Regions from separate parts of the Homo sapiens genome. Here region 2 is linked to region 1. A link means that fine-mapping ties the variant in region 1 to the expression of a gene that starts in the linked region. Tissue or cell type: whole blood. Region 1 holds a variant in brackets; the other region holds the start of a gene. All regions are shown on one strand. Distances are between the middles of the regions.

The links. PIP is the estimated chance that this variant, and not a neighbour inherited with it, causes the effect.
Region 2: it holds the start of CDKL5, and the variant in region 1 is fine-mapped to the expression of CDKL5 in whole blood (TOPMed, PIP above 0.99).

The regions. Positions count from the first base shown.
Region 1 is chrX:18,673,455-18,681,558 of GRCh38, forward strand. It overlaps TRV-TAC1-2 (tRNA-Val (anticodon TAC) 1-2), which reads right to left and starts at 1,527; the gene lies at 1,455-1,527. It also overlaps a transcript of PPEF1 not described here. RefSeq lists a silencer at 1,452-1,638. The variant T/C (reference allele first, on the strand shown) is at 4,163.
Region 2 is chrX:18,420,765-18,428,849 of GRCh38, forward strand. CDKL5 (cyclin dependent kinase like 5) reads left to right here and starts at 4,844. Exons shown (of 18, transcript NM_001323289.2): 1 at 4,844-4,931. RefSeq lists an enhancer at 4,465-4,759 and a silencer at 5,095-5,164.

The DNA.
Region 1 (8,104 bases):
GGCAACATGGCGAAACCTCGTCTCTACCAAAAATACAAAAATTAGTCGGGCGTGGTGGCGTGCACCTATAATCTCAGCTACTCGGGAGGCTGAGGCAGGAGAATCGCTTGAACCCAGGAGGCCGAGGTTTCAGTGAGCCGAGATTGTACCACTGCACTCCAGCCTGGGTGACAGAGCCAGACTCTGTCTCAAAAAAAAAAAAAAATGGTTAAGGTGGTTTTAAAAAAGGCCGGGCACGGTGGCTCAAGCCTGTAATCCTAGCACTTTGGGAGGCCGAGGCGGGCGGATCACGAGGTCAGGAGATCGAGACCATCCTGGCTAACACGGTGAAACCCCGTCTCAACTAAAAATACAAAAAATTAGCCGGGCGAGGTGGCAGGCGCCTGTAGTCCCAGCTACTCGGGAGGCTGAGGCAGGAGAATGGTGTGAACCCGGGAGGCAGAGGTTGCAGTGAGCTGAGATCACGACACTGCACTCCAGCCTGGGCGACAGAGTGAGACTCCGCCTCCAAAAAAAAAAAAAAGAATAAAGTTGATGAAGTGATTGTAATAACAGGGAAAGAGTTACACTCAAGTTAGAAAAAGACGCAAATTTCTACACTGTTAAGGATGCATAACTAGGTTGAAAATGCAGAGAAAAATACTGAGTGCCCCTTCCCATTTTATATTTTTTGCTACCACCATCTCACCATGGCCCACACCCTCATTCCTCTTGTCAAAGATAAAAAAGCCAATATTTAAACAAATAATAAACTCCCCAAAGGAAACTGTAATGAAATAGTAAAGAGGAACAGAAAGAAACTAGAGAAACGTTTGCTCATTCAACCAGTATTTATTGAATGTCTACAAGCCTGACATTTATTTTATACTGTGTATGAACTCTATTCCACAAATTCTACTGCTGCATTAAAAGGGACTGTGGGGTTTTTTTTTTTTCGTGCTCTGCACATCAGAGTTTAATGAAAAATAGAACTTTTAATCAGAGTCATAATCATGACCGACCTTTAATAATTCACCTGCAGTCAAAGCGCTGCTGTATTGCCTGCCACATTTTAGTTGGAGGTTGGGTGGCCGGCCCTTGCTGGCTTGCAGGCAAAGGGCAGCCAGGTGCATTCCCCGAGCGCCCGATTTTCCGAGGCGTACTGGGAGGAGAGGTGGGGTAGGGCCCGGCCGGATCGGGGGCGCCGGATCGGGTCTAGGACTTCGCCCGGCCCCTGCCCTCCACTACTTCTCATGTCGGACTATGGCGGCAGTGACCTTGTGGGATAGGAGAGGGTATCTGTCATTTCACTTCTGCGAGAAAAACATGCCAAAAAATTAAAAAGAAAAAAAGGACAAAGAAAAACACTTCGTTGTCGCTTTTTGGTTTTTTTTGTTTGTTTAACCCAAACCCTTTTTTTTTTTTAACCCAAACAACGAAACCCTATAAAAGCAAAAACAGCCGCCTTACGGCTATGGTTCCACTGGGGCTCGAACCCAGGACCTTCTGCGTGTAAAGCAGACGTGATAACCACTACACTATGGAACCTCTACGAGGAAGAATATTGTTGGGACTTTATTCATAGACTCACAGCAGTTCCGGTCCCTCCGCCGGAGCCCCGCCTCTCCACCGTGACCCCGCCCCCGAGGCGAGGAGTTTGCGGCGGCTTCGAGTCTCGGGCTCCGGCGTTTGGGCGGCTTGTCTTCCCTGCCCGCCACAGTCGCGGCCCCTGGGACCAGGGCGAGGCCGGAACCCCGGCCGAGAGCACCTCCCTGCTATCATCTGTCCCCAAACTTTCCCTCAATCGAGGCGCCGGCGGGGCGGCCCGGCGGCCGGAAGTGCACCCTGCTCGGGCTTTGCGCCCCCGGCAGCTTCCTCCGCCCGCGAGGGCCCCGCGCCTTCCCATTTTCCCAACCGGCAAACTGAGCCTCGGCCACCCGGCCCACTTGCCGGTCGGAAGTCAGGACGTCGCCGCTTGCGGCGGCGTGGAAGGCTTCGCCTCCGGAGCAAGGAGGACGGGCCGCTGGTTAGCGGGCCCTTTGCCCGAGGGTGTGGACCTCTACCCGCTCCCCTGCCCCTTCCCGCAGCCTTCTTCCCCTCCCGAGGACAGGCCTAGGGGGTGCAAATGCCAGGGCTTCCGTTAGGTCTCCTTAGTCTAGGGCTGCAGGGGTTGGGGGACGAAGACGTGTAGACGGGGCCACCCGTCTATGGCTTCCAGGGTGGCAGCGGCCCTGGCCACGTGATTGAGGGGCCCAGTGCAAAATGAAGATGCCAGGCCCCTTGTTAAGTTTTTGAGAATTTCACACGGTAACAGCAGAGTATTCAACCTGGTGCGGGGTCCCTGACTTGCTTGCAGGACTGTAGTCTGGGTAACGGGCTGGGACCCTCCATCACAAAGGGTGATTCTTGTTTTTCATCGTCAGTGTCATTTGCCTTCTTCAGGGCTTCCAGGTGGATCTTCGTCACCACCCTAGGATTGCTCACCATTCTCAAGCTTGAAAACCCACCTGCAATCATTTGGGCGGGGGGGGGGGGGCATCTTTAAGCGCCCAGGTGAACTTGGTCTGCAGGCAGCAGCTGTCCTTTTCTCTGGATCTTCTGCTGAGGTCGGTAGGTTGATAAGTGATACTGATTTTGTGGCAGGAACTCCCTTCAGCCAACTCCTGTCTTCCTGGGAAGGCCTCTGGAAGAAACCAGGTGGGTGCAGGGAACACTAAGGTGGGGATCTGGATGTTCGTCTTGATTTGGCCATTCATGAGCTGGGTGCTCGAGCTAGTCAGTTCACCTCTGGTCTCAGTCTCCTCCTTTGTAAATACAAGGGTTGGACTAAACACGTCCCCTTTCACCTCTGGGTCTCAATGTTATGCCCATCTTCCACGTAGGAAAACGGAGGCAGTTATCTGCCATGTAATCCCCCCCACACACACACCCCCGCCCCCCGCCCAGAAGTAGAGGCAGGCCAGCTAGTGGCGTGGGTTTTTCTAGTACCCGTTTCCCGATGTCCTCAGTTAGCTCCCTGTCATATTCATCATGGGGCCCCCTTCTAGTCTGCTTTTTTGGTGAGACGTTTTCAGAGGCCTCTCGAGCGCTTGATGCCTAGATTGTGGGCCACGAGATGACCAGAGTGGCCAGCCACCGGCCGGAGGATACGTTCCTGAGAGCTCCACGTTTCCCACTAGTCAGTGAGCCTCAGGACTCCTGGGAAGCCTGATAATAAGTGTATCCCACCTGTTTCCAAACCCCTAGCGGTCGAAAACAAGACTGCCAGGAACTGGCCCTAAAGTTACACCCACTGGTTGTGTTTTGGATGGTGTCTCTAGGAAATGCTTTGCTCTCCAGCCCCCCACATCCCGATTTTTCTGTCTGCCCCTGGGTATAAAGGTATGTTTGCCAAGTTCCCACACTTAACCTCTGTGCAGAAAAGAAGCTGGTGTCCCTCTGTTGCATGCTTAACCTCTGTGCAGAAAAGAAGCTGGTGTCCCTCTGTTGCATGCGACACAGGTATCTGCCTTTGGTGAAAAACTCTTGTTCCTTTTCTCCATTCCAGGAGGGAAACTGTGTTCTGTTCTCCCCGCCGCCCCTCGCAAGGTGTCATCACAATCTTTTTTTTTTTTTTTTTTTTTAAGACGGAGTCTCGCTCTGTTGCCCAGGCCGGAGTGCAGTGGCACGATCTCAGCTCACTGCAACCTCTGCCTCCCGTTCGAGCAATTCTCCTGCCTCAGCCACCCAAGTAGCTGGGATTACAGGCGCCCCCCCACCATACCTGGCCTACTTTTTGTATTTTTAGTAGAAATGGGGTTTCACCATGTTGGCCAGGTTGATCTCAAACTCCTGGCCTCAAGTGATCCGCCCACCTCGGCCTCCTGAAGTGTTGGGATTGCAGGCGTAAGCCACCGCGCCCGGCCCCACCCAGCTCAAATTCTGTGGTCATTTTTATCACTTGCTTGTTTGCCCTTTCATTTCTTCCTTGTGCTTGTTGGTAAAACCACAATCTCTTACATCTGACTGTCTCCCTACCCTGCCCCTGAACATGGCCCAAGAAGAACACATCCAAGCTGACTGGTTTCACACTAAATTCATGACTGCTTAGCTCAAGTGAACCCTTTCTGCAGTCCAGAATACGTGTCCACTTCTAAGGACGGTTTCATGTCTTATCTCCGTAAACCTCCTGTACCCCCAACCC[T/C]AATCTCGGTTACAGCTGATGATCTAGCTTCCTATTGCGGTGAAAAAATGGAAGCAATCAGAAGAGAACTTCTGGAAGTCCCCTGCCAGCCACCGTCTGCTCTCGTGCTCTTCCTCTGGATCAGGATGGGTTGGGACTGGCTAACTCTGTCGTAGGAGGCTGTCCCGTGTATTGTAGGATGTTTTGCAGCATCCCTGGCCTCTATTCACTGGATGCGTGTAGCACACATCCTCCCCCACCACCCAGTTGTGATGACCCAAAATGTCCCCTGGGGGACAAAATCTTGGGAGTTCTTTGGCAATATCTGGAGACGCTTTTGTTGGTTATGACTGGGAGAGGGGTACTATAGGCACCCAGGAGGGAGAGGCCGGGGCGCTGCCAAACATCCTGTGGTGCCAGCTACTCTGGGGGAGTGAGGCGGGCAGAATCCCTTGAGCTCAGGAGGTCGAGGCTGTCGTGAGCCATGATTGCACCGCTGCACTCCAGCCTGGGTGACAGAGTGAGAACCTGGCAAAAAAAAAAAAAAAAAAAAAGCCGGGTGCGATGGCTCACGCTTATAATCCCAGCACTTCGGGAAGCTGAGGCGGGCGGATTGCTTGAGCTCAGGAGTTCAAGACCAGGCTGGCCAACATGGCAAAACCCCATCTCTATAAAAAAATACAAAAAACTTAGCCAGGCATGGTGGCGCACACCTGTAGTCCCAGTTACTCTGGAGGACTGAGGCAGGGAGGATCCCTTGAGCCTGGGGAGGTCGAGGCTGCAACAAGCTGAGATCGCATCACTGCACTCCAGCCTGGGCGACAGAGTGAGACCCCGTCTCAAAAACGAAAACAAAAGCAAAAAAACAGGAAAAAAGCTCTTAATTCCACTTCCACCTGTGCCACTTCCATGTCTCTGCTCTCCTTTATAATACAGTTCTTAGATTGGTCTGGTGCTCTCTCCAGTTCTGTCCCCCCACTGGGACTTGTTCCAGCACTCCACCAAAATTCCTCTGATCCAGTGATTTCCACATTGCTACACAGAATAGCTCTTCCTTTTCATCAGATTTGATCTACTAGCAGCATTGAAAACAACCCATCACTCTGTTTTGAGGTACCTTCCCCTCGGCTTTTAGGATGCGGACCTCTCGCGATGTTTATTTCCTCTCACTGCATACTCCTTTTTGGTCACTTTTGCTGGAGCCTCATCTCTTTGACCTTTAAACACAGCCGTACCTCAGAGGTCTCGGTGCTTGGACTTCTCTATTTGTTCTCACCACCCCAGCGACCTCATTCAATCTAATGGCTTTCAATACCCTTGAGAACCTAGAAGATTCCAGTGTGTATCTCTAGTCTAGACTTTTCTCTCAAACTCCAGACCTACATGTTCAACATCTCCATTTAGATGTCTGTTAGGTTAGGCATCTCACATGTCTGTGTCCACGCTTCTGATCTCTGCCCCTAAATCCGCTTCTCTCTTGATCTGTTTTTCTTTTTTGGAGACAGTTTTGCTCTGTCACCCAGGCTGGAGTGCAGCAGCGCCATCTTAGCTCACTGCAACCTCCACCTCCTGGGTTCAAACAATTCTCGTGCCTCAGCCTCCCGAGTACTTGGGATCACAGGCGTGCGCCACCACATCCGGCTGATTTTTTTCTGTATTTTTAGTAGAGATGGGCTTTTGCTGTTTTGGCCAGGCTGTTCTTAAACTCCTGGCCTCAAGTGATTCACCCACCTCGGTCTCTCAAAGTGTTGGGATTACAGGCGTGAGCCACCGTGCCTGGCCTCTGTTTTCTTTATCGCAGATAATGGCAGCTTCATCTTTCCAGCTATTTAGGCCTAAAACTAAGAATCATACTTGATTCTTCTTTTTCTTACACCCCCAGTGTAATCTTACTAGCAAAGCTTATTGGCACCACCTGCAAGATCTATCTATGCTAGCTTTCTGTCATCTCCCCAGCTACACTCTAATCAAAGCCACTATCACATTTTGCCTGGATCATAGCCAGTAGCCTCAGATCTTGGCCTTTCAGCTTCTGCCCTTTCCCCCCTACAGACTATTCTCCACACAGTAGCCAGAGTGGTCCTTTCAAGATTCAGATTAGCTCTCATCATTCTGTGCAAAACCCTTCAATGGCTCCCTACCTCAACTAGAAAAGCTGAAGCCTTACAGTGGCCTACAAGGCTTGTGCCTCTCTGGTTATAAATCCTCTTACTGGCCAAGCACAGTTGATCATGCTTGTAATCCCAGCACTTTGGAGGCCAAGGTGGGCAGACACTTGAGGCCAGGAGTTTGAGACCAGTCTGGCCAGCATGATGAAATCCCGTCTCTACTAAATATACAAAAATTAGCCAGGTATGGTGGCATGCACGTGTAATCCCAGCTACTTGGGAGGCTAAGATGGGAGGATCGCTTGAGCCTGGGAGGCGGAGGTTGCAGTGAGCCGTGACTGTGCCATTACACCCCAGCCTGGGTCACAGAGCAAGACCCTGTCCTCAAAAAAAAAAAAAAAAAAAATCCTATAACTTTGCCTTTGCTTTGACTGCACTCCAGCCACACCGGCCTGCTTGCTGCCCTTCAGTTACACTAGGCCTCTCCTGCCTCGGGGCCTTTGCTGCTGCTGCTGCTGCTGCTGCTGCTCTCAGCCTCGAATAGTTTTTCCTTAGATCACGCTGTTGCTTGTTCTCTCACCTTGCTCGGGTCATACCCAGATATCTTCTCAGTGAGGCCTTTCCTGACTGTCTACTGAAAATTGCTATTATTCTTTTCCATTCATGCTAGAGACTCACTGCCCCCCTTTCCTGCTTATTTTTCTCTGCAGCACTAAATTTCTTCTCTTTTTTTTTTTTTTTTTGATACGGCATCTCGCTCTGTCGCCCAGGCTGGAGTGCAATGGCGTGATCTCGGTTCACTGCAACCTCCGCCTCCTGGGTTCAAATGATTCTCCTGCCTCAGCATCCCGAGTAGCTGGGACTATAGGCACCTGCCACCACGCCCAGCTAATTTATATATATAAATATTTTTAAATTTTATTATTATTATACTTTAAGTTTCAGGGTACATGTGCACAACGTGCAGGTTTGTTACATATGTATACGTGTGCCATGTTGGTGTGATGCACCCATTAACTCGTCGTTTAGCATTGGGTATATCTCCTAATGCTATCCCTCCCCCTCCCCCCACCCCACAAGAGTTCCCGGTGTGTGATGTTCCCCTTCCTGTGTCCATGTGTTCTCATTGTTCAATTCCCACTTATGAGTGAAAACATGCAGTGTTTGGTTTTTTGTCCTTGCGATAGTTTGCTGAGAATGATGGTTTCCAGTTTCATCCATGTCCCTACAAAGGACATGAACTCATCATTTTTTATGGCTGCATAGTATTCTATGGTGTATATGTGCCACATTTTCTTAATCCAGTCTATCGTTGTTGGACATTTGGGTTGGTTCCAAGTCTTTGCTATTGTGAATAGTGCCACAATAAACATACGTGTGCATGTGTCTTTATAGCAGCATGATTTGTAATCCTTTGGGTATATACCCAGTAATGGGATGGCTGGGTCAAATGGTAATAGAGATGGGATTTCACCATGTTGGCCAGGATGGTCTTGATCTCTTGACCTCGTGATCCGCCCACCTTGGCCTCCCAAAGTGCTGGGATTACAGGCGTGAGTCACTGCGCCTGGCCTGCAGCACTAAATTTCTACATATTTACTAATTTATTTTGTTGATTGTCCCCACCATCCTCGACTGGAATGAAAGATCCATGAGGGCATGGATTTGGCTTCATTCTCTGTTGTATTACGCAGAGTCTAAATAGTTTCCAGCATATAGTAAGTGCTCAGTGAATATGTCTTGAAAACAATGTGTCAGTGTTGAGGGTGACTCAAGCCAGGGCAATGAGTTCCAGTAAGAGCTAATCCTGGATTTTTGCTTGACTTCTTGAGCAGAGACGTTTCCTAATTCACCC
Region 2 (8,085 bases), 250 kb before region 1:
TAAAGTCCTTACTATGGGTCAGATACTCTTCTAAGTATTTCACAAATAGTCACTCACCTAAACCTATGAAGTAAGCACTATTATCATCTTCATCATCTCCAATTTTTTTTGAGACGGAGTCTCACTCTTTTGCCCAGGCTGGAGTGCAGTGGTGCAATCTCAGGCTCACTGCAATCTCTGTCTCCCGGGTTCAAGCAATTCTCCTGCCTCAGCCTCCCAAGTAGTTGGGATTACAGACACTCACCACCACGCCCAGCTAATTTTTGTATTTTTAGTAGAGACGGGGTTTCCCTGTGTTGGCCAGGCTGGTCTCGAACTCCACACCTCAAGTGATCCACCCACCTTGGCCTCTCAAAGTGCTGGGATTACAGGCATGAGTCACCGCGCCCGGCTTCATCTCCATTTTTACAGAGGAGGAAACTGAGGCATAGAGAAGTTGAGCAATTTGCCCAAGGACATAACTAGAGCTAGCATTTGAGCCCAGGCCATCTGACGCCCGAGTCTTAAAAGATATGATTGCAATGTAAGGTTTGCTCAAGGTACAGAAGAATATTGGTTAAAGTGTTAAGGCTGACATTTCTGTTCTTTCCCCACTGTTCCTGGTTAAACTCAGTGCCTGGAGGACAAAGATAGAGGCTTTGTTTCAAATGAGGAATTGGATTCAAATTTCCAAAATGAAAATTTTCCAAATGATATAAACTTTAAATGAAAACATGTAAGATCTGACGGTTTGATTTAAGCTCTGAGCAGGGCCGAGGAATAACTAATGCTCACCTCTTCCTGCAAACACTATAAATTTATGCACTGAGCCAGGCACCGCGGCTCATGCCTGTAATCCCAGCACTTTGGGAGGCTGAGGCAGGCGGGTCACTTGAGGTCAAAACCAGCCTGGCCAACATGGTGAAACCCCATCTCTACTAAAAATACAGAAATTAGCAGAGTGTGGTGGCGTGCGCCTGTAGTCCCAGCTACTAGGGAGGCTGAGGCAAAAGAATCACTTGAACCCAGAAGGCAGAGGTTGTAGTAAGCTGAGATCATGCCACTGCACTCCAGCCTGGGTGACCGAGCAAGACCCTGTCTCAAAAAAAAAAAAAAATTATGTGTTGATTGGATTCTTAAGCTTTTCTACCAGATCCTGATTGCATTATGAGGTCTAGGCCCAGATGGATACTTCATAAATGTTTTTTTGACAATGAATAGAATGCTTGTTTAGTCTTCTAGACTTGTCCCACATATATCAAGGATAAAAATGTCTTACTTTTTTTTTGTTTTGAGATGGAGTTTCGTTCTTGTTGCCCAGGCTGGAGTGCAATGGCGCAATCTCGGCTCACTGCAACCTCCGCCTCCCGGGTTCAAGCGATTCTCCTGTCTCAGCCTCCCGAGTAGCTGGGATTACAGGCACATGCCACCATGCCCGGCTAATTTTTGTATTTTTAGTAGAGACGGGGTTTCATCATATTGGTCAGGCTGGTCTCAAACTCCTGATGTCAGATGATCCGCCTGCCTTGGCCTCCCAAAATGCTGGGATTACAGGCGTGAGCCACCGTGCTCAGCCAAAAATGTCTTACATCTTGATTACCACTTGTTTATTGATTATTGAGACCCGTAATGAGTAGCACTCATAGGTTCTGACATCTGTAGTGGGATGCGTCTCTGGCATCTAATAGAAAGTCTGACTCAAACTGTCTGAAATGCAAGGAAAGGGCAGAGTTTGTTTAATGAAACAACTCAGTGACGTCATCAAGAACCCAGTTAAAAATTTTTTTTTCTATTTTTTGATTCTGCCTTATTTAGTGTGTAGGCTTTGACCTAGGGCTGGTTTTCCTCTTAGTCACGAAATGACTGTCAGTGGCAACAAGCGTACTTGCTTCCTTGTTCATCCAGCAGGGTAGACAGGGAAAACCTCTTTCAAACCATCAAATGTTAAATTCTTTCCTTCAGTGTAATTAGGCCACACATTGATTGACTGAGACTCTGGGTAGTGTGGAGCGGGTGGATGCCTGAACAGAGTTGGGGTTCTATTAGAAGGGCAAAAAAGCAAATCGATGCTGGGGAGGTTCTCAAGCTGTTTCTTCATCTGGAAAATGGTGAGAATTTCGCAGAGAATTGAGAGGATTAGAGATAATGTGTCAGATTTAGCAAATAAAAATCGAAGATGCTCAGTTAAAATTGAATTTGAGATAAACAGCAAATAATATTTTAGTCTAAGTATGCTCACCTCTTTCTACAAACACTACAAATTTATACATTAATTTGGTTCTTAAGCTTTTCTCCCAGATCCTGATTGCATTACAAGGTCTAGACCTAGAAGGGCATTTCGTAATTTTTTTGGCAATGGTTAGAACCTTATTTAGTTTTCTAGCCTTGTTCCACATGTATCCAGGATAAAAATACACATTTATACTAAAAATTATTCGTTGTTTATCTGAAATTCAAATTTAACGGGGCATCTTGTATTTTATCTGGCAACCCTAAATCTATGTGAAGTTCTTGGCACAGAGCAGGTATCCATTCACTGGCTAGTATTAGTGTTCTTTCTACATAAGTGCTCAGTTAAATGGCAGCATGGTACTTTTTTTTTTGGAGACAGAGTCTTACTCTAGCCCAGGCTGGAGTGCAGTGGTACCATCTCGGTTCACTGCAACCTTGACCTCCTGGGTTCAAGCAATTCTCCTGCCTCAGCCTCCTGAGTAGGTGGGATTACAGGTGCACGCCACCACTCCCGGCTAATTTTTTTCTATTTTTAGTAGAGATGGGGTTTCACCATGTTGGCCAGGCTGGTCTCGAACTTCTGACCTCAGGTGATCCACCTGCCTTGGCCTCCCAAAGTGCTGGGATTACAGGCGTGAGCCACTGCTCCCGGCGCATGGTACTTTTTAAACTTTTACTAACTTTCTAGAAAGGTTAGTTTTTGACCAAAAGACGAATTAACTAAACTGCAAGTGACTGCAAGAAATCCTTTACCACTACTTAAAACCAGATCAAAGCAAATGTCCCTAAGCAGAAGGTCATATTTGTGTATATGGGATGGCACATTATAAGGCATCTAATATTACTACTTAATACTAAATTGGACCTATATTAACAGATGTTCAGTTATTGTTTTTTCTCCATCTTCTCAATCTATACGGATAATTAATTTGTTACTTCCGGTTCACCAGGTCTAAATAAAATTTTAAAAAATTATTCATTTGAGTCAAAGGTAATGCTGCTGAAATTCCTAGTACAAAGGCTCTGATATACAGGGATGAAAATGGAGTGATTGCCCCAGGAGTTCTGGATCCACGTGGGTGAAGCTAGAGGTCACAGCACTGTTACTTTGCATCTGGAGGAGGCAGGAGACTCTGCGAAGCCCTCTGTTGTTGCCTCTGACTCCATTTTCCCTCTTTGCTAATTCATTGCTCCTACCTGTAAAATTTTCTAATATGCTTCCACTTTCATTTCCTCATCAAATATTCACCGTTATGAAAAAGAAAATCCTATTGGCTTGGTATCAAGTGGCCAAACTGAGCATGCTGCTACATATTGTTACCAGATTCACTACAGGAATAGATTAAGTGGATTTTATCCCAAATATCTATTTCCTATTACAGTACTGCATCTTTCTAATTTGGTGGCAGCTATGACCTCATACACTGCCTATTTTCCGTGCTTTTCCTAACCAGAAGAGACCCTATTTTTCTCCTTTGCTTGTTAAAGCGAAAATAATTATGCAGCTTTCCATAGATTTGTCCCCAATGTCTTTTTAAAAAAATTTTTTTTCTTTATTTTCTAAAAGTAGCATTGGAAATGTTATCTCCTTCAATTTCATCACCTCTTCATCCTCCTTGGAAACCCGATCCATGGTGGGTATTAAGATCTTTACATTTGTACTGGTTGGGCGATGACTTCATTGCTTTCAAGCCAGCTGGGGGATCTTGTGTGGCAGAGCATCGGACCGAAGCGGAGGTGTGGGTCGTTGCTGCTGCTGCTGCTGCTACTGCTGCAACAGCTCTTTGCACGCGCCCAGCTGCTGTGTAAGGAATCCTCAGGCTGCTAGGTCTTTGCGCCTAACTCACCCAAGGGACCGCAAGCTGCTGGATGAGTGTACGTGTGAGTGTGTGTTGTGTGTGTGCATATGTGCGTGTGTGTGTGCACACGCAGCGGCAACAGTTGGGCAGCAGCAGCAATGGACTTCGATATCATTTTTACCAACAACAGAGATAAACCATCCTCCATCCTGTATTTCTCAGCTCCCGCCCCGAGTATGTTCTCCCCCTCTTCTCCGACTTCCCCCACCCCAGCCCCCGGCACGGGTCCCTCCGGAGGGAGGGCAGGGTAGCTGCGCTGCAGGCAGGATTCCCTCTTTTTTCCGCAGTGACAGGCGGATTCCGGGGCCTCCTCGCCACCTCCTACCCCCGCAGCCACCCCTTTCTCAGTCACGATCTCCCCACCCCACCACCGTCGACCCTCTCCCTGCTTCCCCGCTCTACCCCCCGGCGTCGACTCCAGGCTCGGGCCCCGCCCCTCTCAGCCTCTCCAGCCCAGGTTGCTAGGGCTTGGCGGGGCAACCAAACCTGGCGTGCCAGGAGGCGCGGCGCGCGCGTGAGCGCGCAGGCGAGCTTGTATAAGGAACCAGCGTTCTTCGGCTTCGGAGACTCGAGCACGAGCGGCGCGAGCCCGAACCCCAGGACAAGCGCTTCCTCCTCATTGGCTCCTACCAGAAGGGGGCGGGGTAAAGGCGGGATCGGGCAAAACCTGAGGTGCTTTCCCATTGGTCCGAACGGGCCGGCTGGGGCGGGGCAGTTAGCAAAATAGGCTGCGCGTTCGCTTCTGCTAGAGGGCGGGGCCGGAGGTTTCGATTAGTTGTCTCTGCCGCTGGGGAAGGTAAAGCGGCGACGGCGTCCTCAGGAGCTGTGGGGTCCCCTGCTAGAAGTGGGGGACTCGGCGGGGTGAGTAGTCGCGCCGCCACCCGCCCGCCAAGCCTTCTTACCCTTACATCGGCCCCGCGTCCACCCAGCTTCTCCTGAGAGTGGAGACCCACCCAGTCCCCCCGGGCGGACAAGAGAAGGGGCGGGGGCGCCGGTTCCCCCGGAACGGGGCGACGCGGTGAGGACGTCCCAGCCCGGAGTAGCCCCTCCTCAGCGCTCCCCTGCGCCTCTGGAAGGGCTTCCCCCGAGGGGCTGGGGCTGTCTTTTGGGGTGTGGGGAGGCGAAAGGGTGTGAAAGAGGGGCGGCGGGTCGAGCCCGCCCCGCGGGGTTCCCCTCAGCGGCGGGTCTGCGGCGTCCCCGCCCCGCCGCTCCCGCGGCACGAGCTCCCCGGGGCTTGCGGCGAGGTAAGCCCCTTCCCGCCGGCGCCGAGGAGGGGCCTGCGCGCCCCAGCCCCCTGCCCGAGTTCGGAGGGAGCCCGAGACTCGCCAGGGGCCGTCAGTCGCGGCCCGGGCCCTTCTGACCTTGGCTGCCCGCGAGGGTGGGCTAGCGACCGGGCGCCGGCCCCGCGGCTCCGCAACCTCCCCCGGACAAGTTTCAGGCGATGCTGTGAAGTTCACGACTGGCATAGTGCGGGGAAGAAGAATGGCCCCTTCTCAGACCTTCATACCTTTTGGACCCTCATAGAAATCGGATTCTGGGATTTGGAACCGTCTCCCAGAACGAACAGGTCCTCCTTGCATTGACACGTTTTGTGCCCACGTTGGGGAAAAAAATAACCTGAACATATTTCAGTGTAAAGGCAGATCTTCCTTGAGGGTTTTGTTTTTCGCTTCATTTGAGTGTTAAAGAACAGATGCCTGAATAAGAAAAGCCTGACCTTAGTATCTCTACAGTGAGATTAGACGGGTGCTGTGATATTTAAGTAGTTGCAGATCAGTATTCTGTTAGCACAATCTATTTTAATTGGCTGGAATTTAAGCTGATTTTAGAAAGTATTGTTGACACCGAATGATTTCTTTCTGTGCATCTGAATTAGGTTTGTTTGAACGTAATGGTTATATAGTTAATGTAAAAGATTACACAAATTAATTTGTCTGAGAGCGTTTGTCAGAAACAGGAGACAGAGATGTGTATAGAACAGGATTATCGTTTTAGGTAACATCTGCTGGAACATTTCCAGCTTGTTTCTTTCTTGCTGTAGGGTTACAAAAAAGACATCTTCACCGAGGCTATTCGGAATTACATGTGAGTGACACTTAGATGTAAATTTGTTTTTATTTCCTTCAAGTGTTTTAAAATGTTTTGTTCACAAAATGTGAAGAGGCTATATTTACTTGTTCCTGTATGTTAGTGTTGAAGGTGATAGTATGATCTTATGATTAACAATCCAATTAGGGTCCATTAATAATAGATTTTTAAAAAAGGCGTGCTGCTTTTCGAGAATATGATAGGTTGAGTACCTAGCAAGACTTCTAATTTCTTTTTATTAAAAGTACTATTTTAGGATTGAGAATTTTTGGCGTTGACACTGAAACCAGGAATAAGGAAGCCTGCAGCAGTCTTAGCAGTTTGACACCACCAGTAGGTGTTTCTGTTGACAAATGCAGAGAAGAGAACATTTGGGAAGGAAATCTTTTTTTCGGGGCGGGGGTTGGGGGGGAGGTGAGGGTGGTTGAGGGGGGAAGGAGCCAGAAGAGAGAAGCTAATGCTGCCAGCACTGTATGCTGAGCATTTCACAAGTACAAGGAAACCTAATTAGGGAAAAATTCCGTTTGGCTCTATTAAATAATAGAACTACAAAAGAGGCATACTAAATAAAGTTAACCATTCCAAGAGTGTTAGATATTATCTGCCATTTCAGAGTAGTTGGGGGTTCCTCAATTGGAGAGGGTATCAAATCTCTTTGAATTGTCTTGCCTTTTTAACATAGTCAATGCAGCGATTAATTTGCTAGATGTATATATATCAAACAGTTGAGTATTCCAGTTTTGTTGTTTAGCATATTTCCTAAGCCTAAATTTTTTAAAATCAAAATCCGATATATTTTTTTTAAATTTGAAATAGAATTCTTTGTCCAGAGAGTAATTCCTTTTTTCCTGGCTCAGTCTTAAAATTTATTCATGATTTAGGGGTTTGTGATTGGTATTTTTTTACCCCTTTTTCTCAGGTTTTTGATTTTTACTTATGCAAGTTCCCTAAGTCTGCCTTTGTTTATATTGTAATTTTCTTGGAATTATTTAAATCAGAGTGTGGCATCTATTGTGTCCCCTGGGGTTTTAAAAGGAAAGGCTCCCATTGAAAGAAATTGCAGGGCCGTCTCGCATAGATGGGTAATAGAAGGTTGACTGATTGCGAATCAGATGTATTCGGTTGCAAATATGCTGCTTGGGGTTAAGGCAGTTTCAGTTAACGGGAACCAGATTTTACGTGGTGTTTCTACTTTGAAGGTACAGTATTGTTACATTACAAACTGAAAGACAGAGGTGGAGAAATTCCTTTAAGTATCACCCCTAGCCTTGTTTCACCACTGTGTCCAGGAATCTATGAGAGACTGTTAACAATAGCTGCATTGTTGGAAATGACAGTGGCTTCTCTTGCAGAAAGTTAACCTTTCATTATGATTTTCATTTCAGTTTACTTTGTAAAAGAAAATTTAGCTTTATCTGAGAAATTGGCTGTAAGAAATTTGCAAAGAGAGCAAGGAAAATAGGTTTTCTTCAACGTGTCTGTTAAAATTCACATTCTCTCCCCTTCCGTTTTGATAACTGGTGGTGATCTTTATTTCCTCTAGATATTAGGTATGCTAACACAGTACCTGATTTTTGGCAGTTACTGTGGGAATATGACTTTTTTATGTAATAAATTGATGTCAAATAATAATATGAGGCTTTTAGGAATAATTAATTCACATGCATAGATCTAAAACATGAGGGAAATCTTTTAGATGACCCTTCACTTTGGTACAAGAATAGCACAATTTGAAGTATTAAGTTGCTTTCTAAGTAGAAAAAGCTATTTACTCAGAATTGGGTAATTTTAGATTTTAAAGTTTTTTTTTTTTTTTTGCAACATCAAATAATTTGGCAACATCAAATTTCTTGTTAAAGGAGGCGACAGAATCTCACAGATTCTTTATCATCTGATCATGGCATCAGTTGGACTACATTTCAACTTA